4 linked regions of the Homo sapiens genome follow. The protein of the gene in region 2 purifies or fractionates together with the protein of the main gene of each other region. This does not show direct contact. Each region holds a gene or a part of one and is shown on either strand. Other genes may lie near its edges. The genes, in order: LMAN2L, TMEM106A, KIAA2013 and DIPK2A.

What was found.
Region 1: the proteins of TMEM106A (region 2) and LMAN2L purify together in Homo sapiens (co-immunoprecipitation; 2 studies listed by BioGRID and IntAct, with this or other methods). This does not show direct contact.
Region 3: the proteins of TMEM106A (region 2) and KIAA2013 purify together in Homo sapiens (co-immunoprecipitation; 2 studies listed by BioGRID and IntAct, with this or other methods). This does not show direct contact.
Region 4: the proteins of TMEM106A (region 2) and DIPK2A purify together in Homo sapiens (co-immunoprecipitation; 2 studies listed by BioGRID and IntAct, with this or other methods). This does not show direct contact.

The regions. Positions count from the first base shown.
Region 1 is NC_000002.12:96,709,063-96,716,097, forward strand, and holds part of LMAN2L (VIP36-like protein isoform 2 precursor), read right to left. Parts: intron 4,078-7,035; coding exon of another isoform or gene 4,045-4,077; intron 2,964-4,044; coding exon 2,802-2,963; intron 2,709-2,801; coding exon 2,594-2,708; intron 1-2,593. UniProt on the Homo sapiens protein: May be involved in the regulation of export from the endoplasmic reticulum of a subset of glycoproteins. May function as a regulator of ERGIC-53.
Region 2 is NC_000017.11:43,214,845-43,220,546, reverse strand, and holds the end of TMEM106A (transmembrane protein 106A), read right to left. Parts: intron 4,760-5,702; coding exon 4,606-4,759; intron 4,099-4,605; coding exon 3,958-4,098; intron 3,851-3,957; coding exon 3,807-3,850; intron 3,289-3,806; coding exon 3,235-3,288; intron 2,867-3,234; coding exon 2,746-2,866; 3' UTR 506-2,745; downstream 1-505. UniProt on the Homo sapiens protein: Activates macrophages and polarizes them into M1-like macrophages through the activation of the MAPK and NF-kappaB signaling pathway.
Region 3 is NC_000001.11:11,923,420-11,931,402, forward strand, and holds the start of KIAA2013 (uncharacterized protein KIAA2013 precursor), read right to left. Parts: upstream 3,009-7,983; 5' UTR 2,819-3,008; coding exon 1,786-2,818; intron 71-1,785; coding exon 1-70.
Region 4 is NC_000003.12:143,988,790-143,992,870, reverse strand, and holds the end of DIPK2A (divergent protein kinase domain 2A isoform a precursor), read right to left. Parts: intron 3,362-4,081; coding exon 3,030-3,361; 3' UTR 503-3,029; downstream 1-502. UniProt on the Homo sapiens protein: May play a role in cardiomyocyte proliferation through paracrine signaling and activation of the PPI3K-AKT-CDK7 signaling cascade.

The sequences.
Region 1 (7,035 bases), on a different chromosome or scaffold from region 2:
CACCACCACGCCCGGCTAATTTTTTGTATTTTTTTTTTAGTAGAGATGGGGTTTCTCCATGTTGGTCAGGCTGGTCTCGAACTCCCAACCTCAGGTGATCCACCTGCCGTGGCCTCCCAAAGTGCTGGCATTACAGGCGTGAGCCACCGCGCCTGGCCTGAAGTTAGATTCTTATTGATGCTCAACTCACCTGTCTTTGTCAAGTAGGAGCCTATTCAGTTTGGCTCCTGCGTCTCTTTACATAAACCCAGAAGTTTTTTATAACTTCCTTGCTTTTCTGGGAAGTTCCAACTTATAGATTTCCTACCTCAAACCCTGCATCAGCCATTTCTCAAGGAAGCTGCAGTTCCTTTTAGGGGGAATTGGTATTTAGAGACCACAAATCTGAGTGCTAGGGGTGCTCATTGCTACTAGGTTGGTTACTGACTGGGGCCTGGATTTCTGGTCATTTATAAGGAGAGCATCCACAGCTGCTTGGACTGCTAGAATCTTTAGCAGATTCCCAGGTAGTGAAAAACTGGATTCATCTTCTGTTGGAAAAATGTTAACTGTCAGAGCTCAGTTTAAACCATGGGACAGGATAAAAGGCCAGGGCAATGCTCCTCATGCAATGCAGGGCATTAAAGCCTGGAACGGCTGGGAAACATCCTAACTTTCTCAGCAGTTTTCAACAACCTACTATACAACAAGTAAGAGGATGGCAACAAGAAAGACCTCAAAAGAAAGAAACAACTTGCATTTAGGGATACCCTATGGGCAGAGAACACAGACTTACTAACTTGGGTATTCTCACTAAAGACCTAGGGCAAAAAACTTAGACTAAACAAAAAATTATTCTCCCCTGCCATTTCTGACAGTTGGGGACTTTCCATTAAAAAGTACGTCAGGAGGTTAACCCAGAAACCTGTAAGCTCAAAGGAAAATGTGTAGTCATATAATGAGATTATATAGCAAAGATCTCCAGCCTATGCCTCCTATCCCCCTGCCGAGACTAAATTTTTCCCACAGGTCTGGCCTGCTCGGTACTTAGAACCTAATTGCCAAAACTAATCTCTCTGCATGACAGAAAGCAGATCAATGGTTGCCTGGAATCCAAGAAGGGGAGGAATACTGCAAAGGGGGATAATAAGGCTTTTGGCAGGTGATGGAAACATTCATATCTTAATTGTGATGGTGACTACATAGGTGTAAATATTTGTCAAAACTCTTCAAACTGTATTCTTCTGTTGTATGGAAAGCACACCTCAGTAAAGTTGATTTTAAAAAAATCAGATGCCAGAGTTTTAAAGATCAGCAGATTGCATTTTAAAAATCCAGATTATCCAGGCTGGGCTCAGTGGCTCATGCCTGTAATCCCAGCACTTTCGGAGGCCAAGGCGGGCGGATCACAAGGTCGAGATGGAGACCATCCTGGCCAACATGGTGAAACCCCGTTTCTACTAAAAATACAAAAATTAGCTGGGCGTGGTGGCGCGCCTGTAGTCCCAGCTACTTGGGAGGCTGAGGCAGGAGAATCGCTTGAATACAGGAGGTGGAGGTTGCAGTGAGCTGACATGGCGCCACTGCACCCCAGCCTGGCGACAGAGCGAGACTCCATATATATATATAAAAAAAAATCCAGAATTCCAACTGCTCTTGAAAAACTGGAAGATTTAGCCTCACTGAGCTGACATTTCCTTTTAGCTACAATGGCTGGAGCTCACTAGCTGTCGGCTTTTTCAGATGGGTATCTGCCTTTCTATTTTGCCACAAGAAACTTCTATTCCAAACTAGCTTTATCCAGAACAAATTATATTAATCAAAAGAAACAGAAGTTCAGTTCCTTTTCTCTTCCCAAAAGATGTTATGATTGGGGTTCAAGCAAAGAGAGTAAGTGTATAAACGAGAAGCTACGAATCAGGCATAAGTAGAAAAAGAAACAAGAGGAGATGGAAAAGTAAAAGAACCAGGTGCTGTTAATGTCACATAAGTCAAGAAGGCAAGAGTTTCAGGGTAATGGGTTAAATGAGCTGAGGAGGACAAAGGGTGAGAACGAGAATAGAGTACTGAATATGGCAAGGAAACAGAATGACCTTTCATGAGAATGGTGTTAGTGTACTAGCAAGATAGAGCACAGGTCTGAGTCAGCATGTTAAGGAGGTGGACAGCTAGGAAACAAAAGGATCTGTACACACAACACATTCAAAAGTCTCAGCAAAAGGAGAGTCTGGGGTCAGAAGAGGGACGGCAAAGTCAAGGAAAAGCTTTGTTAAGGAAGGGGAACGGGGAACATTAGTGGTTGGAAGGAGAGGAGCCTGACAGCAGAAATCAGAAAGCAAGGAACTCACGATACAGGCTAGAAGAGCCAGCTTAATGAAGGGACAAACACTGCTTTCTATTAGCACCAACCATCTTCTAGTGACAACTGTACTAGGAAAGCCTGGCGTGGGTTTTTAAGGAATGTGGATATAAGAATGCAGAAGGAGAAGCAGTCTTGAGGCACCTCCTTCCAGAGCACCGCTCCTCTGGCTCTCCCCTGTGAGAGGCCTCAATGAAGTGTGGGTATTGAGAAGAGGCCTCAGTCAGGGCAAACCAAGAGTGCGCGTGGCAGTACCTGAGAGATCCCCAGTGATGGAGGAGGTGCCGAAGTAGTAGCCGCGGGGCAGGCGGACTCCGGGCACTTCAATGCAGTCCCTCCACTCATGCTTGCCATCAATATCCATCATTATCTAGAATAAAAAGAGAGATAAATCAGGGTCAGGCCATGGGAGCAAGAGCGACACAGCCCACACCACCATCTGGTCCAGGACAAGGACTCTCACCGTCAAATGCCTCTTGACGTAGCGAATCACCAGGAAGGTGTCGTAATGAAGATTGCGGACAATGGCTGTGCAGCCTCCCAGCTCTGTAGGCCGCCCATCCCGCTCATGATCATAGCTGAGGGAGCCGTTGTTCACCATGGCTGAGATGTAGGGGAATACCCGCTGGAAAGCAGAGAGGGGGAAGCAGACACTAAGGAAGAGCACATAGGAACGCCTGTACAAACAGCAACAGGAATTCAGCACATACAAGTTGAGCCCCTTACAGCAGAATAGGCAGCCACTCGACCTCATTGTCAGCAGCCCCTGAGAGCCCACATTCAGATGGTCTCTCAAGGGAAATGGGCCCAGGAAGCGACTACACTTGGTATTTGCCTTCAGTAATTCTCTTGGCTCCTGAACTGGGGTGGGCCTGAAGTGGTCCTCCTAAGACGCTGGAGTCTGACTTGAATGCCCCAAGGTCACCATTTGGCACTTATGTGCCGCCTAATACCAGGGGTTTCCTTTTCGTGTATATGTACCTATCTCCCCAACTGCCACATAAGCTTCTTGAAGAAAAAATTCATTCATCACGTCTTCATATGTCTAAACTTCAGCCCCATCTCCTCCCAACCATGGTTCTGCACACAGCGGGTATTCTGAAAATACCTGTTTGAGCAGGGGAATCTTTCCATTCAGGATAGCTCTTTTCAATTCTAAAATTCTATAAGCATATAAGGCTAAATGGATTAGAACTCAGAACATGGAACGGGGTTGCTGGATGGGCTCAGCCAGCCACAATGACTGTCCTTAGTCAAAAGACTTTCCAGCCCACTTAAGCCTCCTCCACACGTAACTTCTCCGAATAATAATAAGAGGGCAAGGTTCTCCCTTAACAGGGAGAAAATTGCAAGTTTTCCCATAAGCCACTCATTTTCCCATCTATTTCAGGGGCCCTCTCTCCCCAGTAGAGTTGTAGGAGCAATTCTTCCTTAGAAATGGCGAACTAATCATTCCAGAACAAGCCCAATGCCAAGGCAGTGCAAAAAGGCAGGGTAGTGAGGTGGTGAAGGGGTAACATGAGGCATGCCACTCCTTTGGGGAGTATTTGTCCCTTTGTCCCAAATGGTTAACATGCAAGATGGAGATGCAGTCGAGACCAGAGACCGGGGACTCCTGAGACAACCACATGGACTTGAAACAGCAACAAATGTTGGATGGACACATGGGAATGAGGGATGCTCATGATGAGCCAAGAACTGAGTACCTGGACTCCTGGAGAATATCGCCTCTTCTGGGCCTGAGAGGGTCCAGCAGGTTATGATAAAAACAAGAGAGGGCACAGAAGACAGGAGACCAAGTCAGAAAGACACAGCCACAGAAGAGCTATGACCCAGCTGTGATGGATGAACAAACCAACTTAAATCCCCAAACAGAATTTTAGGGTCCCTGAAGGGCATCCGTGAAGTCTTTGCACCCTCAAGATGATAGGCAAAACCATATGCACGGGTGCTTGTACATTTTTCTGAGGAGAGGGTCTGTTACTATATCAGATTCTCAAAGGGGTCCCCTAGGAAGACCGCTCTAACCCATAGAGGGTCCTGAAGCTTTTGGAAGGCACTTTATAAAACACATAGCAGTACGCTGTCCAGGCACGCCGCACTTATGTCTCTGGGAGTCAGTCTCAAGTTTGTCTGTACCCAGCCTACTGTATTTCTATAGCAAGGGGAAAGAGGAGACAACAGGGCTAAATTCTTCCAAATTCAAGACATCCTTTACTATCCAGGATCTCAGGAAACAGCTCCTGCCCAGAAGACCAAAATCTTGCCACTTGAGAGACTATGAAACTAACTCTAATCCAAAGGGATCACTTACCCTCTAACTGAGCCTTATGGTCATATATTCCCAAATAACTATTGTCATTCTAACCTACCACACATAGGCAAGGAAGAAGCTCCATGGAGGCATTGCAGAATGACAGATTTAGAAAATCATCAGGCGTGAGGGTATTAAGCTCTGCTCCAGCAAACAGCTGCAGTTCTAAGCCATTAGCGACAAGAGGTACCTACACAAGCTCAGCTCAGCTCTGCCCTGTGGGACAGGTAGGCGAGGGTACAGAACTCAAACCCTTCACTCCTTTAATACGGTGAACACCTACTACAAGCCAGGTACTGTTCCAGATGCTGAGGGTCCAAAGAGAAACAAGACAGACAGGAATGGAATTAAGATCAGAGTGGAAGAAACAAACAACAAAGAAGCAAATAAAATTATTTCAGATAGTGAAAAATGCTATAAGGAAAATAAAATAGGTAATACAAGGGATGGGCAAGGGAACCTCTCCCTGAGGAGGCAATATCTGAGCTGAGACTCAAGTAATTAGAGGGAGTCCACCAAAAGATCTGAGGGCACAAGAAGCATGAGGGTGGCACATTCAAGGAACTGGAAACAGATCAGTCAGAATCACAGCTTGTGAGAAGAGGCTGCCATGAGGCAAGGCAGCACCCACGGCACTGGGCTCCATGGGCCACAGCCAGGAGTCCGAGGCTGCAGTGCAGATCCCCTGCCGTCCTCCTCTTAACACCACTGGCAGAATTCATACAGGACACAGAAAGGCATGACATCAATCCGTGGATGATTAAACTGGCATGAAGTTAATCTTCAACAACTACCATTTAGAACAAGGAAATGGTGAGCATGTTATCAAGCAGTTTACAGAAACTGGCATCTGAGAGTATGCTCATAATTTCAGTGACAATTAAGAAAAAGGGATTAAAAATGCCCTGTGGAGCTCTGATGAGCCCAAGGCTTCCTTCACTCATCACCTCTAGTAACCCTGATTAGAAGTTTAAGTTGCAACTTTAAAGAGATAGCAATCTCCTATGTTAGCTTGCTTAGAAAATAAACAAATAATAAAGAGACAGCAATCCTTAGCCTAAGGGTGCCTTACTCTTCCCAAGGCTGGTGTGGACCCAGTTCCAGGTAACAGCCAGAGGCATGCTGGACCTTGGGAGCACCTGAAGGAGCTTGTTAACTGCACGTATACATGGGTCCCTCAGTCAAAGAGTCTCATTCGTATGGCTAGAGTGGGGTGCAGGATTGTTTTTTGTTTGTTTTTTTGAGATGGAGTCTCACTCTGTCACCCAGGCTGGAGTGCAGTGGCGAAATCTTGGCTCACTGCAACCTCCACCTCCTGGGTTCAAGCAATTCTCCTGCCTCAGCCTTATGAGTAGGTGGGATTACAGGCGCTCGCCACCATGCCCAGCTAATTTTTGTATTTTTAGTAGAGATGGGGTTTCACCATGTTGGTCAGGCTGGTCTCGAACTCCTGATCTCGTGATCTGCCCGTCTTGGCCTCCCAAAGTGCTGGGATTACAGGCGTGAGCCACCGCACCCAGCCAGGATTATGTATTTTTAAAAAGCACCACAGAAGGCTGTGATGTGCAGCCAAATTGAAGAAACGCTGCACCAGACAGGGAGCCTCACAGCTTTGCAACTACAGAGAATCTGTCTACTTCGGCAACACGAGTTGGCCTTCAACTTTTAACCTCACATTAGTGTAAGTCACTAAATGCCATCTTATTTTCTACGCCTAGTCAAGAGTTCCTGGAAGTATTTCTTGGATAACCACTAATTTCACACAGGAGCAATTTTGTTTTTCCCCTAGAAAGCACTCTGTAAGTTAGAACCAAAGATTGAAGAATCACACTGGTTCAGGCAAGGTGGTAGTTTTATTCCTAATTTAAGAGTCACCAGAAAGGAGAAACTCTCACCTGTTTTATCATCCAAAGGACTGTTGTTTAAAGGGTGGAGAAATGTTTTCAACTTTTTGTACTACAAGACTACTTTTAAAAAAGTGTTTTTTGAAGACCTCTACGGGATAACTGTATCTTCAGCATATTTCGATGGAAAAGACACCCATTAGCTTGTGGATTTATGGATTCTAGGCTAAAATTCCAAATGGCCTCTGTAATTAGGGAGACCTGAGTTCTAACTGCAGTTATGTCACTTATAGCTGTGTAACCCTTCGGTGGATTACATCACCTCTTTGAGATTCTATTTCCTCACTGTAAACAGAACAATACAAAGCTCACAGGGTTCATTATGAAGATGAAATGAGATATGCGAAGCATTTAGTACAATGTCTTGGTGTTCAGGAGGGAGTCAATAAACATTCAATCAGTGACTAGTGTATTTCTAGATACAAATATCGTTCACAGGTACTCATATATATATAAACACAAAGCCAAACATACATCTT
Region 2 (5,702 bases):
GAAGAGACTTTAGAGATACACAATGGGAGCAAGAGGGAGAGTGAGGTCCTGTGAGCAATCTCACGGAAAACAGAAGGGCAGGATATGTCATCAGTGGCTCAGAGGCCTGGGGAAGAAACCTTGCTGCCCGTTAGAACATTAAGGAAACAGTTTCTGCCAGGTGCAGTGGCTCATGCCTGTAATCCCAGCACTCTGGGAGGCCGAGGCGGGCAGATCGCTTGAGGCCAGGAGTTTGAGACCAGCCTGGCTAACATGATAAAACACTGTCTCTACTAAAAATACAAAAATTAATTTGGTGTGGTGGTGCATGTCTGTAACCCCAACTACTCAGGGAGTCTGAGGCACGAGAATCACTTGAACACAGGAGGCAGAGGTTGCACTGTGCCAAGATCATGCCATTGCACTCTAGCCTGGGTAACAGAGCGAAACTGTCTCAAAAAAAAAAAAAAAGAAAAGTTTGTGAAATAGGGAGTATCCACTAGCTCCCTTCCCACTCCCAGGAGACTTTTTTGAACACTCTTAAGTATAGTTTATTGAATACAATATAAATACTTCACATTTGGCAGTCTATACACAGCAGCTCCAGCCTGGCTTCCCTGGACTTTTGCGCTCTTGCCAACACCACCCTGACCTCAGCTTGGAGACAGCAGTCTCCTTCCTTCCCCTCGTTCCCCCAGCCAGCTAGTTACCAAGTTCTGTCACCACTTCTCCCTCTCCATGCATCCTACTTCAAAATTAGCTTTCCCTGCTCACCTGTGTTCATCGTTCTGTCTGAATGATAAAGAGACAGCCATCTTTTTTTTTTTTTTTTTTTGAGACAGAGTCTCGCCCTTGTTGCCCAGGCTGGAGTGCAGTGGTGCGATCTTGGCTCACTGCAACCTCTGCCTCCCAGGTTCAAGTGATTCTCCTGCCTCAGCCTCCTGAGTAGGTGGGATTACAGGTGTGCGCCATTACGCCCAGCTCTTTTTTTTTTTTTAAACGGGGTCTTGCTAATGTTGCTGCTCATGTTAAACTTGAATTCCTGGGCTCTAGAGATCCTCTCACCTCAGCTTCCTGAGTAGCTGGGACTACAGGTATATACCACTGCACCCAGCTGTAAGACCAAGCCACCTTTAATGAACAAATATCCTTCCTGTTCTGCTAAAGTACAGAAACTATTTCTACTAGGAGCCAGTGGGAACCTAGGGGTTATCTGGAGCTTAGCTCCAGCTAAGTGACAGGAAAGGGAGGGTCTAGACCAGTCCCTGCTGATGTGCTGCTCCACATTGTCAAAGCCCAAGGAGAGATGAGGCCTCTGGGACCAGAGAGGGCCCTGGTGCTAAGGTGGTGGTGGAACAGAACCCAGCAGCCTTCAGCTGGATACTGATAGCTTCATCTCCTGAAGGCTTTCAGATGACAGCAGCTGGACCCACCGTTTTACCTACCTGTGTCCACTCACATGGGCTCAGGATGTGGACTTAGAGGCTCTCCTTTAATAAATATCTTATACAATGATTCTGTCTTTGGCTCTGTTTTTCCTGTGCAGGCCCGCAGAGTGCCAGGTGCCTCTCTCCCCTCCTCTACTATTTTGGCTCCTGCTATGAAAAGAATAGTAAAACTACTTTATAGAGAGGAGACGCTTTAGCTGGAGAACAACTCTGTCTTCCTAGGAACCAGGGACAGTCAATAACCAGAAAGGACAGAGGGCTAAAGGGCCTTGGCTAATCTTACTATCAGATGGGTGGCAGACAAGTTACCAGAGAGAAGCAGACTATCACTTTTTCACATGGTCAAAGCAGATAGGCACAGAAAAGCATCTATGATCCCCTGAAAGTCCTTGGAGATGGCACTGGATATCCCCAAATTTTCTTATCAGAGGGTAGAAAACTTGAAAAGAGTCTTTTTTTGAGACAAAGTTTTGCTCTTTTGCCCAGGCTGGAGTGCAGTTGCACGATCTTGGCTCACTGCAACCTCTGCCTTCCGGTTTCAAGTGATTCTGCTGCCTCAGCCTCCCGAGTAGCTGGGATTACAGGCGCATGCCACCACACCCAGCTAATTTTTGTATTTTTAGTAGAGACAAGGTTTCACCATGTTGACCAGGCTGGTCACGAACTCCTGCCCTCAAGTGATCCACCCACTTCGGCCTCCCAAAGTACTGGGATTACAGGTGTAAGCCACTGCGCCCAGCCGGCAGGTCCATGTTTTAAAAGCCAGATAAAACTACAGCTCTCTCCACATTCAGACGGGACAGCCAGCCCTGATGGAGCTGGGGTGAAATGCCCCCTTCAGACTGACCAGGTGCTCAGTACAGAAAGGCCAGGTGCCACTCCAGGGAATCTAAGGTGCCTCAAGAAAATGCCAGGTCAGATTTTCCTCAAGAAAGACCAGCCAGGCACAGGCTCACATCTGTAATCCAAGTGCTTTGGGAGGCCAAGAAGGGAGGATCGCTTGAGCCCAGGAGTTCAAAACCAACCTGGACCAACAGTGAGACTCTGTCTCTACCAAAAAAAAAACAAAAAACTAACCAAGGGCAGAATCTGATGGCAGCCCCTGAAAGAATCTGGGGGAAACTGGAGGATATGAGTGTGTGTGTATGAAGTTAACTTCAAAGCAAGCTTCCTGTGCTGAGGGGGTGGGAGGTAAGGGTGTGATGAGGCAGGGCTTCTCCTTTGGCAAAGCCTCTGTAGTCCTTCCTTAGTCACCAGGGAGTTGTGGGAGATATAGACCAGGGTTGCAGGTGCCTGGAGTACAGGGACAGCAGACAGGTCATGGTGGGTGAGGGGTCAGCTGGTGGGGCACAGATGCGTTTCCTCGGCAGTCCACATATTCATAGCTCTGAAAGACCAGCTGCTCTGAATGGCTCAGGTATGAACAGGTCAGGGTGCCCCTGGAGAGGAAGCAGGCCTTGTTGCCATGGCTGGGAGGAAAAGGAAAGCTCTGGCCCCATTATACTGTCTGGGGGTGGGGAGCGGGGAGCTCCCTCATTTGCCCTTCCCTCTGGCTCCCCACTCTGCCAAGGTACCTGGGACAGCTGCCCCACCTGTTTTCCAGCAGCTTCCAGACAGCCCTATGCCTGTTGCCCCTAATAACTTATAGGCAAGGTGAGACTCAGAAAAGGGGCTAGACTTGCTATTCCCAAGAGCCAACAAAGATTCATGGGGTCAGCTTGGAAGACTCTCTGCCCATGAGGTGTAGCTGAGTGAGAATGAAGTCAGAAGTGAGAGCAGGGATACCAGAGCTCCAAGCTCTACTTACTGGATGTGCAAAAGCACATGGTGGACTTTGATTTCCAGCCAGGTACAGATTTTGCTGAGAGAGAAGAAAAGAGAACGTGGGACCACGTGTCACATGGAGCAGCCTGTCAGCTCAGAAGATGCCTGCAGGTCCCAGTTTCCTTACCCCACAGAACTCTTTCCTTCCATCAGGTGCCCCCAAAATGTCACTCCCACCCCTTCCCACCCTTCAGGTGAGTGTAGCAGCATGGCTGCACTATCACTCTGACCTCCACTCACTTGGCCCAGGCACATGCTGGACCCCCATTCAGGAGACAGACAAAACATTCTTCTTCCTCAGCAATGCAGGCTGAAGAGCCCAAGGTCACATATTGTAAAGATTAACCAAATTCCAGCCTGTTTTTCATTCTAATCAAGGTCCAAACAAGCAGAGGCTGGGGACCCTGAACCCTTGCTTATTACATTCTCGGCCATGGGAGGGCAGGCCAGATGCTGGCTGAAGAATTTGCTAAGCAATCAGGAAAGCTGGTGGGTATTAATTGGGTCCCTAAGCCAGGCAAGTGGCTAGGGGAGAAGAGATCAAGGGGTACTCACTATGTGTTTTCATCCCGTATCTTGGTAGCTACTGCGTAAAACATCTGTCAACCAAATGGGCACAGGGTTAGCCCCAACTCCAGCTGCCCCTTTCCCACTACCACACATCCACACACCAGTGGGCAGGGCTGGCCAGGGAGAGGGGAGTCACCTGTTCACTGGCCAAAGGGCCAATGTGTAGGAGAAGGTTGTTGGAAACCTGCCCCACCACGAGGGACAGGTGCAGAACCTCGAGGGTCAGCTGTGTCACCATAATGGGGTAGTAGTTGCCATTGGAGATGTTTAAGATATTCTGGGGATGAAGACAAGGGAAGGGAGGAGTGAAGATGGCCCATCCTTAGGAAAAGCCAAACAGTTGCAAAAGCCTGGCTGTCTGGCCTGAGCCCCATCTACCATGACAAGCTTCAGGTGCAGAGGATGAAAACTGGGAGCCCCTTGGAGGGGCATTGAATGGTGAGGGGTCAACTTTACGAAGTTAAGCTGCCTCAGGATCCAGGTCCATCCTGTACAGCTTCTTTCCATTCAGTCCTGTCCATCCAGAGAGTCTCAGGCACTGTCACCCCACTCCACCCCTGTGGTTTACTTATCTGGCCCGGATTCTGACCCCTTACTGTGTAGAGTCCCAATCCTTACCATCTGTCATGGAGCTCATGGTTGCTCCTACTTCTCTTCAGGCTCCCAACACCCTCTGGGTGCCATAAGATCTCTGGCTTCCCATGCCCAGGGTCATAACACTGGACAAAGGTTACAGCGAAGTATTGCTAGGAAGGGGGGTTTGGAGCCAAGGGCACCCACCCACCGTTATGTTGAGGTAGATATCAGCCTCATCAAAGGCCACTGTGGAGGAGTTGAGGCCTGCAGGCTGCACAATGACGGACCGGGGAAACAGGAAAAAGACGATGAAGGAGGAGGTCACCAGGCAGATGAGCACGGCCAGGAACACAAAGAGCTTCCTGTGGGAAAGCAGGACCCAGGATGGAGGAATGGAAAAGTCTGAACACCAAGGAAACTCGGAGAGGGGGTTCAGACACTCCTCTCCATATACAAAGCTTTCCCCTGCACACTACCCCAACAACATTTAGCTCCCCAGATGTGGCCCGGAATGAGTAGGAGCACAGGATTGGCAGGCAGGCAGCCTGGTTTCCACTCCCAGATCTCTGTTCCCATTGACCCAATAACATGGAGCAGCCCACTTAGCCTCCTTAAGTCTCAGTTTCCTTGTTGGTAAAAGGCAGATAATTGTACTGACCTCACAGAATTTGTTATCGGCTAATATATGAAAAAATACTAATCACAGGTCCCTGCACATGGCAAAAGCACAATGAATGCTAGTTATTATCACTAGAAGAAATAAGTCCATATTTGGAAGTTCTGAATTTTAACATTCAGAACAGGACACCATCCATCCAATTCAAAATTCAGATATGCATTAAAGAGATAGTACTTTGTTAGTATCTTATGATGTGCACTGCTAATTTCTTTTTTTTTTCTTTTTTTTGAGATGGAGTCTTGCTGTGTCGCCCAAGCTGGAGTGCAGTGGCACGATCTCGGCTCACTGCAACCTCCACCTCCCGGGTTCACGCCATTCTCCTGCCTCAGCCTCCTGAGTAGCTGGGATTACAGGTGCCTGCCACTATGCCCGGCTAATTTTTGTATTTTTAGTAGAGGCGGTTTTGCCATGTTGGTCAGGCTGGTCTCAAACTCCTGACCTCGTGATCTGCCCGCCTTGGCCTCCCAAAGTGCTGGGATTACAGGGTTTTTTTTTGTTTTTTTTTTTTTTTCAGATGAGGCCTCGCTCTGTTGCTCAGGCTGGAGTGCAGTGGCATGATCTTGGCTCACTGAAGCCTCCACCTCCTGGGTTCAAACAATTCTCCTGCCTCAGCCTCCCAAGTAGCT
Region 3 (7,983 bases), on a different chromosome or scaffold from region 2:
TAATAGAGCGTCAGGTTCACGGTGAGGCCAGACGGCGTGTGGGTGTCAGTGATCTTCTTCATTTCCACTCCTGCAACACCATGAAAGCGGCATGTTAAGGGGGAAGGACAGCTGGGAGGCAGAGCATACGAAATAAAGACCAAGGGCAGCAGAAGAGTGAGGTGTTGTGCCTTAATGATAAAGACAGTGGTGCCCATCTCCCTAAAGTATAGAAGAAAGTCAGCCTGTCTTGTTTACACGACCAACTTGAGCCTGTGGGCCTGAAATCTAGAATCCTGTTAAAAAGCAGCGGGGCCTGGTGCCAGAGCCCAGAGGAACACAGACTTAGCCAGGACTTGGCACCAACCCTATGGTCAGACATCCTGCGCCAGATCAGTCACCAGTGCTGAGGCCAGTCTCAGGCCACTTCTCCTCTCTGTCCTTTCTCTCTCCAGTCTTGTAGCTTTATGTATGTATGTATTTATTTGTTTATTGAGACAGAGTCTCACTGTGTTGCCCAGGCTTGAGTGCAGTGGAACGATCTCAGGTTACTACAGCCTCCGCCTCCCGGGTTCAAGTGATTCTCCCGTCTCAGCCTTTGAGTAGCTGGGACTACAGGTGCAGGCCACCACCCATGCCTAAAACAGCCCTGGCAGAAGCATTCAATAGACACTTGCTGAATAAACACGTGCTGGGCCCCTTTGCTACTGATGGATTCAACAGCCCTAAGATTTAAAAACATACACACACACAACTTTGTTTCTGTGAAGATGACCATCCTCTCGCCGGGCGCGGTGGCTCACGCCTGTAATCCCAGCACTTTGGGAGGCCAAGGTGGACGGATCATGAGGTCAGGTTAAGTTTTGTATTTTTAGTAGAGACAAGGTTTCGCCACGTTGGCCAGGTTGGCTTGAACTCCTGACCTCAGGTGATCCACCTGCCTCAGCCTCCCAAAGTGCTGGGATTACAGCGTGAGCCACCGCGCCCAGCCAGCACATTCTAGCCTAAAAAGATGCCTTATTTTAATTTTAATTTTCACTTTTCTAATGTCTGTCTTCCTCCCAACCAGAATTTAAGCAAGCACCATGAGAACAGGAACTCTGGTTCCCATCTGCACCCCCCCATGCATAGAACAGCCCTGGCAGAAGCATTCAATAGATACTTGCTGAATGAACTCAACTCTCTGAGCAACCAAACACAAAGGTTCAGACAATTGGAACCCTGGAAACCAAAACCCCTCTCTCATCCAGAACAGGATTTTCTTTTCTTTAACAGTCAACGAGAGGAGAGTTTTCATCGGGCGGGAGCATCTCAACCTGCTAAAAGGGATTCTCCAACCTCCCTGTGAACCAGTTGCAGCCACAACTGCCAGGACGCACCTCAGCCTAGCAGGGGTTATGTCAAGAAGCCCACGTCTGTCACCAGGCCGACTGCGGTGCTGAGCAAAGAATCAGGGGATCCACCTGCTGGTTTCACCTCTGCAAACTGACTCTAAAACACTTCACTCTGCTCACATCAGGCCCCATCTACCAAAACAAGTAACAGAAAGAATTGACCTTTACACTCAATTGTCCACTACAGTCTCATAAAAACCTTCTGAGGTAGGCGTTATTGTTATTAAATACAGGCCCAGAGAGATTAGGCGACGAATCCAAAGGTCGCACAGACACTAAGCAGTTGAGCAGATTCAACCACTGGTGAAACGCCAAGCCCAAGTTTCAACCACCCCACCATCACCTTCAGTGTCACCTCTGCAGACTTGGGAGGGACATATCTAGGGTGGACCAAGCGCTGGCCAGGACTCACCTGGGCTGAAGAGCTGAGCCCAGAGGAGCTGGTGGTCTTGAAGCAGCTCCGCCGCTGGCATGTCCAAGAGCTCCAGCATTTCCTTCCGTGCCAAGTCCTGCAGCGCCTTGAGCTCCTTGGCTGCTTTGCTTTTGAGCACCTGGGGGTTAATGGGGCCAGAGACGTGCACCACCCACAGCACCGTCTCATCCAGCTGCGTCTTGGGAGCCACTTGGAGGCGGTTCACCAGCTTCTTGGCGGCCACCACCACCAGGTGCACCAACCCAGTGGGCGTAGGCGGGGACCGGCCTGAGTAGAGGAGGAACTGATGGTCTCCGACCTTCTCCAGGGTACTGGTGAAGGCCTTGGGGGCTGGGCCGGCAGTGGGCCCCACAGTCTGCAGCGCGGCCACGCGCTCCGTGGGGTTGTTGAGCTGGATGCGCTGCAGGTAGACGTGGGGTCGGCCCCTGTGCGCCAGAAAGTCCTCTTGCAGCAGCACGCAGTCGCGGCCGGACCCCGCGGCAAGGCCAGAGACGGAGGCGGGCCCGGGGCCGGCGGCCACGGGGCCAGGACCTGGGGACCCCAGCTGCAGGCAACGCACGCGGCGCAGAAGCCCCTCCCGCAGCAGCAGCACCGCCTCTCCAGCTTCAGCCAGCGCGCTCAGCGGGCGCAGCTGCACGAAGGGCACAAAGTCCGGCGCCACGGCGGGCTCCCGCTCCCCGGGAGTCACCCACAGCCGATTGGCAGCCACGTCCAGGGCCAGGAAGCCGTTGGCCACCAGGGCCGGCACTCCAGGACCCAGCGGTACCACCTCACCGCGCTCCCGCAGGCCGCGCCAGGCGCGGGTGGCCGCCTCCAGGCAGGCAGACGGCTCGGCGGCGCCCGGCTCACCGCGGGACCAGGGCAGCAGGTGCAGGCCGCCCGCCGCCCGCCGCGCGCCGGACCCCCCAAACCACAGAAGCAGCAGCAGGAGGCCAAGCAGGCAGAGGAGGCGGCGGGCCCAGCTGCTCGACAGCAGTCCCGGCAGCCCCTTGAGCCGCTGCTGCAGCCACATCGGGCCGCCAGGCGCGGGCAAGGGTGCGAGGGCGGCCGCCGGGCCCGCCGCCCAGCCCACCGGCCCGGCCGCCCGCGCCTCACTGCCCGGCCCGGACCGCGGCGCCCACCCCGGCCCCCGCCGCAACCGCCGCAGCAGCCGCCACCCCTGCTTCCTCCTTCTTCTCGGTGGCCTCCAGCCGTCAAACGACGCCGGCGGTCAAGCGTCGCCGTGTCTTTTACGACAGATGGAAAACGGGAGGGCGGAGGGAGGAGAGAGAGCAGGCCGGAGAGAAGGGGGCGGAGCCACGGCGAGGGCGGGACAAAAGCTGCCGGGGGCGGGACCACTCGTTCCCAGGCCGGAAGAGTGAAGTCCAGTGGAGTTAAGTGCAGGGGTCTGGGGAGGACTGGAAGCATCCAATTCACTCGTGAAAAAAACATCGAGCCAGCCAAACCGAACACGTGTTGGGCCCCTTTGCTACTGATGGATTCAACAGCCCCAAAATTTAAAAACATACACACACACACACACAACAACTTTGTTTCTGTAAAAATGACCATCCTCTCGCCGCGCGCGGTGGCTCACGCCTGTAATCCCAGCACTTTGGGAGGCCAAGGCGGGCGGATCACGAGGTCAGCAGTTTGAGACCAGCCTGACCAACATGGTGAAACCCCATCTCTACTAAAAATACAAAAACTAGCCGGGCGTGGTGGCGCATGCCTGTAATCCCTGCTCCTCAGGAGGCTGAGGTAGGAGAACTGCTTGAACCCGTGAGGCGGAGGTTGCAGGCTTGCAGTGAGCCGAGATCACGCCACTGCACTCCAGCCTGGGCGACAGAGTGAGACTCTGTCTCAAAAAAAAAAAAAAAAAAAAAGACTATCCTCACTGCAAAAAAACACTTGGAACAATACGAAAAAGTGGAGGAAAAAAAAAGGAGAGAGAAGAAGAGGAAGAAAGAAGAAGAAAGGAAAAGGGAGGAGGAGGGGAAGGGGAACCACCAGAGGCCAGGAGTGGTGGCTCACGTCTGTAATTCCAGCACTTTAGGAGGCTGAGATGGGCAAATCACTTGAGGTCAGGAGTTCGAAACCAGCCTGACCAACATGGTGAAAACCTGTCTCTACTAAAAATACAAAAATTAGGCTGGGCACGGTGGCTCACGCCTGTAATCCCAGCATTTTGGGAGGCCGAGGCCGCCAGATCACGAGATCAGGAGATCGAGACCATCCTGGCTAACACGGTGAAACCCTGTCTCTACTAAAAATATAAAAAATTAGCCAGGCGTGGTGGCAGGCGCCTGTAGTCCCAGCTACTCGGGAGGCTGAGGCAGGAGAATGGCGTGAACCCGGGAGGCGGTGCTTGCAGTGAGCCAAGATCGCGCCACTGCACTCCAGCCTGGGTGACAGAGGGAGACTCTGTCTCAAAAAAAAAAAAATAAATAAATAAAAATAAAAAAATAAAAATGCAAAAATTAGCTGGGCGTGGTGGTGGGCGCCTGTAATCCCAGCTACTTGAGAGACTGAGGCACGAGAATCGCTTGAACCAGGGAGGCAGAGGTTGCAGTGAGCCGAGATCGCGCCACTGCACTCCAGCCTGGGCAACAGAGCGAGACTCCGTCTAAAAAAATAAAAAATAAAATAAAAACTAACCACCAGAAACTAGACTTCCCCAAAAATATTTTGTTAACAGACCTGTCTAGCTGCATGCACACCACACGTGGACACAAATCCAGCCAAGGGCCATCAATGTCTCCACTACACCAAATCGTCTTCTTGATGTCAGTCCTAAGTTTTAACTTATTAAATAACATAAGACACTAACGTCTCATACTTTGAAAATGGCTTTAAATTGTGAATCATCGATGCAAAAGATAAATATTGCTTTGTATTTTGGGAAAAAAATTCAATATAAGCACAGAGGCAGACAATGGGTGATTGTTTCCACTTTGGTTTCAGTACATTCCAAAGCCAGACAGTGCTTCCCAGTTGTTGGAAATTAAACGGTCATTTGAGGTGGCCTCTGGTGGGCTGTGAGCAGACACAGAAATGTTTGCTGAGGCCAGTGCCCTTTAGAAGGAACTGTCCAGGTGGTCCTACAGTCTGCTTACCATTTTTATTTTTTTTATTTTTTTTATTTTTTTTTATTTTTTATTTTTTTGAGACAGAGTCACACTTTGTCCCCCAGGCTAAAGGGCAGTGGTGCAATCTCAGCTCACTGCAACCTCTGCCTCCTAGGTTCAAGCAGTTGTCATGCCTCAGCCTCCCAAGAAGCTAGGATTACAGCCAACACACCTGGCTAATTTTTGTGTTTTTAGTAGAGACCAGGTTTCACAACATTGGCCAGCATGGTCTCAAACTCCTGACCTCAGATGATCCAACTGCCTCAGCCTCCCAAAGTGCTGGGATTACAGGCGTGAGCCACTGCGCCTGCCTTATTTATTTATTTATTTATTGAGACGGAGTTTCACTCTTGTTGCCCAGGCTGGAGTATAGTGGCGCGATCTCGGCTCACCACAACCTCCACCTCCTGGGTTCAAGCAGTCCTCCTGCCTCAGCCTCCCGAGTAGCTGGGATTACAGGAACCTGCCACCACACCTGGCTAATTTTTGTATTTTTAGTAGAGATGGAGTTTCACCATGTTGGCCAGGCTGGTCTGGAACTCCTTACTTGTGATCTGCCCACCGTGGCCTCCCAAAGTTCTGGGATTACAGGTGTGAGCCACCACCCCCAGTCCTATTTATTTATTTATTTATTTAGAGAGAGGGTCTCACTCTGTTGCCCAGGCTGGAGTGCAGTGGCACGATCACAGCTCACTGCAACCTCCATCTCCCAGGCTTAAGTGATCCTCCCAACTCAGCCTCCCAAGTAGCTAGAACTATAGGCCGTCACCATTATGCCCAGCTAATTTTTTTTTTTTTTTTGGTATTTTTTGGAGAGGCAGGTTTTTGCCACATTGCCCAGGCTGGTCTTGAGCTCCTGAACTCAAGCAGTCCTCCTACCTTGGCCTCCCAGAGTGCTGGGATTACAGGTGTGAGCCACCACACTTAACCTTCTTTATTTTTTTTTTTCAATTTTTATTTTAGGTTCAGGGAGTACATGTGCAGGTTTATTACAAGGGGATATTGTGTGATGCTGAGGTTTAGGCTTTTTTTTTTTTGAGATGGAGTTTCGCTCTTGTTGCCCAGGCTGGAGTGAAATGGCACGATCTTGGCTCACCACAACCTCCACCTCCCAGGTTCAAGCAATTCTCCTGCCTCAGCCTCCCGAGTAGCTGGGATTACAGGCGTGTGCCACCATGCCTGGCTAATTTTTTGTATTTTTAGTAGAGACAGGGTTCTCCATGTTGGTCAGGCTGGTCTGGAACTCCTGACCTCAGATGATCCACCTGCCTCAGCCTTCCAAAGTGCTGGGATTACAGGCGTGAGCCACCGTGCCCAGCCTTAAGGTACTGCACTCCAGTCTGGGAGACAGAGTGAGACTCTGTCTCAAAAAAAAAAAAAAAAGAAAGAGGACATTTTATTATGATTTATTTTTACTATTATTATTATTAGGGAGGCTTAAGTGCTAGTGAGAGGTGATCATCCATCTAGCAGCACAGAATATGGCCATCCTACCGAAGCCCTTGCTCTTCCTGGGGCCAAAAAAGGAAATGAATAAAAGAAAAGGATGAAAATGAGAAAAGCCCCTCATGTCACCGGGCAGCTGCCCTCCAGGCCAGCTATCCTTTCTACACCTTCCCTAGAAATCTGAGTCCTGCGCCTTTAACTGTCCACAGCACGTGCAGCACGTACCAGAAGTAACATCTGGACGGCAGCCACCACTGGTTAAAGAGACAGGCCCCCTTTCTCCATGAAGCTTGGGCAGGGTTCAAGTTTCAGCAATTTGGTGAAGGGAACAGGAAACAGATACCAAAGGAGGAGAGGGCAGGCTTTGCCAGAGTGAATCCTTTCTCCCAGAGAGGCCAGCAGCCTCCAAGATTGATTCCCCCTCCTGACTTAAAATGACTTTTGGGCATGGGACTCCCACTGCCCAAGGGGTTTTTTCTTTTCCTTTTTTTTGAGACAGAGTCTTACTCTGTAACTCAGGCAGAAGTACAGTGGTACAATTACGGCTCACTGCAGCCTCAACCTCTTGGGCTCAAGTGATCCTCCCACTTCAGCCTCCTGAGAAGCTGAGATTACAGGCGCACACCACCATGCCCTCCTAATTTTTTTTGTGGAGACGGGAGGTGGGTGGGGGCGGAGGGACGGGTCTATGTTGCCCAGGCTGGTCTTGAACTCCTGGTCTCAAAGGATCCTCCCACCTCAGCCTCCCAAAGTGTTGGGATTACAGGCGTGAGTCATGGCACCTGGCCTCAAGGTTTTGTTTTTTTTTTCTATTCATAGTACATCACCATTGAGGTTCTCCTTGGACTACAGCAAATGGAGGGTTAGAGCTGGGTTCCAATGCTGCCTCCCTTACTGTAGTTCTGCATCAGTTGTGTGGCGTCGAGCAGATTGCTTCACTTCTCTGGGTCTGTTTTCTCATTTTGCAAATGGGGCAATACTGTTTAATTAGCAAGGCTGTTGCGAGCAGGGAATGAGGGAGAGTTTTGAAAACTGAACCAGGGGCCGGGAGCATTGGCTCACACGTGTAATCCCAGCACTTTGGGAGGCTGAGGAAGGCAGATGTCTTGAGCTCAGGAGTTTTAGACCAGCCTGGCCGACATTGTGAAACCCTGTCTCTACAAAAAAAAAAAAAAAAAAAAAAATTAGCCAGGCAAGGTGCATGCCTGTAGTCCCAGCTACTCAGGAGGCTGAGGTGGGAGAATCACCTGAGCCCAGGAAGTTGAGGCTGCAGTGGGCTGTAATCACACCACTGCACTCCAGCCTGGGCAGCAAAGTGAGACCCTGTCTCAAAAAAAAAGAGAACATGGAACCAGCCAACAAATGCTCATTCTCCTCCCTCTGCTCCTCCTGGCATTTCCTCTTCCTCCAGGGGTCTGGAGTCTGAGTCTGCATCCTCCTGAATCCAAAACATCCGGTGGATTCTGGCACCAAGTCCTGTCTCCAGATGCTGAAACTCCCAGCCCTGGATCCCAGCTGGGAGGTAGGGGCCCTGGATTCTGCTCAGGCCTCTTCCTTTTACTTGCCTTGGGACCTTGAGCTTGCTGCCCCATGCCTATGGATATCACTTGTGCTATCTGTGCAA
Region 4 (4,081 bases), on a different chromosome or scaffold from region 2:
GAGATCGTGCCACTGTACTCCTGCCTGGGTGACAGAGCGAGAATCAGTTTCAAAAAAAAAAAAAAAAAAAGTATTGTGTTTTACTAGGAGAAAATGCGTAATATAAATCTGAGATGTAATGATACATCTCAGATTTGCTTCAAAATAAGCTGGAAGCAAGTAGTTTAGAGATGAAACTAGTTTTGCCACATGTTGTTAACTTTTGAAGTTAGTGTAATGATATACTACTGTTCATTATGTTATTCTCTTGCATACATTTGAAAATTTCCATAATGAAGTTTTTCTTTTAATTCCATTTTAGTGGTAAAAGTTTTTTAAAAACTCACTACTACAGAAAAAGAAAACACACATAACCTTAAAGCCTGGTGCACACCCAATCAGATAGTTCCCTCAAAATTCTAATTAAAGTGCATGCAAGAGGAAACTAGTAACTTATCTACTCAAACTCACTTTCCACTCAAGAAAAATGTGGATATCTGAAGTTAAGAAATAGTCTGAAAAGTGTGATTCTTAAAGTATTCTTTATTAAGATCATTAAAAGTTGTAGAAACAACTTTATATTATAAAGGCACAGGGAGACAGTTCAATAAAATATTCAAATTAACAGTAACTTACAGTACAAAAGACAATTTTAATGCACATACAAACCCCAAATGTCTGATTCAAAAATATTTTACTGCGTCTATTAATGGGCAATGATTAAAAATATAAATTGCTGCCATATAATAAATATCTGATAGTGAACATCTTGATAGCAAAGTGAACAAAATATTTATTGCTTTTCACTTACATATTTTTCCCTGTAATTTTAAATTCCTAATTCTTTTACTATCTTCTCAACTTTTCCCAAAGATAAAATAAATTTCACATAATTTCATGGAGGGGAAATGGTAGTTGTAAAAAACTACCTCAAGTAGCAATCACCGCTGGCAGTGTTTTCTCACTTTCTGTTCTGCAATTGCAATCACACTTCCAAAAAGAAAAGCAAATGTTTGCTAAACCATAGACAGACAACCTCTTTGTGACTGGTATTATAAGGTTTATAATGAAAACTTATCAAATATAAAAGGTGCTCCCTCTTGAAAATGTGTATTTTATTTGAAGTTTTGAGTAAGAGGTGAGTGTTTGGCAATTTTCAACACTCCCCTCAAAAATCTCCCAAAGTTGCAAAAAAGTCAGTTTAGTAAAATTCCAAGCACTTAAATGCTTCATTGAGGGCCAGTTGATATACGCAATGCACTAATGTGTAAAAATTAACCGAATGCAACTATTTTATAATGGAGAGCTCTTACCTTTTCCTTCCAGTTTTTAAACTGGCATAAACTTTATTGACTTCATCCTCCTATTTTTATAGCAACCTAGTTTTAGATGGTACAAGTTGAATTTCTATCACAAGACAATAAAATAACATGAAAGCATTATCCTAGTTAATGCTATTTCAACTTAAGAAATATCTACATTGAAGTATTTGATAATAATTGTAAAGTTACTTAACCGTATGTCATGTTCAGACAGTATGTAGCAGCTAGTAACGTGCCTGGCACAGAGTTGATGCTTAATAAATAGTTGCTGAATAAATGAAAAAGAAAAACCTGCCTTTGGTTGTGCATACTTTAATCACTTTCTGATTTAGAAAAAGATCAGTCTAGAGCTCACTACTGCACACTACATCAAACTTTGCTGTAAACAAAAGTAACAACTTCAAACAGAAAAATATTACCTGTTAGTGATAGTCAACTTATATAAAGAGCCCACACATTTCTATGCAAATAATTAAATTTGATGTTCTGATGTTTAACCCTTAGGTAAAGAAGACCAAAGTGTGCTGACTGGCTAATTTGTATGCTTTATAGTAATAATGATTAGTTCCTCAATAAATGAAAAGTTATGATGCCCGATTAAATTCAAACAATGGCTACCATGTTAATTTTGCAAAACTACCCATGAATAAAAGGTAGGATAACTTTAAATTACTTGAAAGCAGTAGTTTAACTTTCAACAGAAAAAATAATCAGGAAGATCTGAATTTAATAATGACAGAGCTAAAATACTGGAAGTAGGGTGGTAAGAATAAGTAGCTGACCAATTCTATTTTAAATTCTAAACATGAGATTAGGTGTAATATTTCTTTGGCATATGCATTACTATCTTGGACTAGTTAACACTTTTTAGATACTGGGTTGTATTTTTTTTCTGAATCAAAATTAACATCAATATATAGATTCTAGTATATTCTTCTTAAAGCCTTTAGAAAAGATAAAATGACATTTTGCAACATATGCCAAACTTCATGTTTAGTGTACACTTCTAATTATTGGCATAGAGGGATATAACTGTTAAATAACCTGAAATGACACCATGCAATGGTGAAACTACAGAAGTTGGTGAAAAGAAGTATTTACATAATGTAATATTTAGCTTTCTTTAAAAAAAAAAAAAAAAAACACAGTAAACCTGGGAATCCTGCCCTAACAGTAAATATGTACCAAATAGCACTGAATGACAACTATTAAAAATTTAAATGAACACCTACAGTAACCTGAATTTTCAAAATTTAATTAAAAAAAAAAAGGGGGAAAAAACCCTACACATCAGAAGGAAAAAGCGGCCTATAAAACAGACCAATCTGACTTGACATTCAAAGTAAATGCAAGAGATTCACAAAATCATGATAGTAAATGCAAACTAAGTACCAAGTACCCTTTGATACACAAGCCAATGTACTATCAGACTCATTTCCAATAGCTTAACAATATTCATTAATCCACTCAAGCATTCCGGGGTAGTGGGGAGCAGCTGATGACAGCTCAAGCCTCCAAAGTATAAGAACATACTTATTTGCAGAAGCATCATGTGATTTTTGAAGTAATGTCTTATTTTGATGGATGTTAACATTAAGATCTATCAGTGCAAGTTTATCATCCTCTGAATGTAACACTTCCAAATTTCATTTTTTCAGATCGTTTTTTGGTGGTTTAGTTTTAGCCAGTGCTGTTTAAATGGAGAAAAAAAGAAAAGTTCACCATAGACTACCTCACGTTGTTACTTAATTGTGCTAGGTATTCACGCAGTTCTTTTGCAGCCTGGAATCTGCCATAGCGCTTCTTTGGGTTGGCACACTCATCCAGCAAGGCCTCGAGCCGGCCATCTTTGGCAATTTCACTTGGTGGATCATGAAGGAGTCCTCCAGAAGTGCCACGCCAGGTGGCATGTCTGGATAAGAGGTTCTGACAAACAGCATAGTAATTGTGGTCCACAGTGGCACGAGCACAAAGAATTTCTTTTGAAAATGATAAGCAAGCCTCCTTATCACAGTCATCAAACTTGCTTTCATACCATACATCCCAATTTTCAGGTTTATCTGTGAAAGGAGGAAAAGCAGAAGTAGAAAAAAATTTTTTAAATAGTTTTCATTGCTTCCAAAAATAGAATATTTCACTAATTAATAGTATTTGTTCTACACTTTTAGGTAAAAGTATATTATAACCATAAACATTTAAATATATAAATTCATACAAACATTCACTGGGAGCCCACTAACGCTAGGCAGAAAGATTCAGAAAGGTCTCTACCACTTACAGGTTTAGTCTAGCGACTTTCCATCATACACAGAAAGTGCCATAAAGAAATATGACACAATGCTACAGGAATAGTGGGGAATTAAATTAGCACTTGTCCCTGGGGCTGTAGAAGGCTGCAAAAAGGAGAACATCTGATTTAGGTCTTAAAAGAAAACAAATCTGAAAAGAAACTAGGAAAAAATAGCATTCTAGGTTCAGGACACAGTATATGCAAAGACATGGACATAAGGGATTGCTCCATTTGGTTCACGAAGCAATAAGTTCACTGTGGCTAGAGTGTGAGAAACGTAGTTGGCAAGGAGATACAGGTGACGCTAGAAAAATAGGTCGTAACTTGTGTAATCACGACCATAATTTATTTTATAGAAAGATAACTCTGGGCTGAAGATTGGAAGGATTAAGATCATGAGAGCAACTATAGATGGCCCAGAATGAAAAGCTAGATTGGAGAAACATTTCAGGCAAAAATAATTAAGTATATGGGTAAAGTTTAAGGTTCT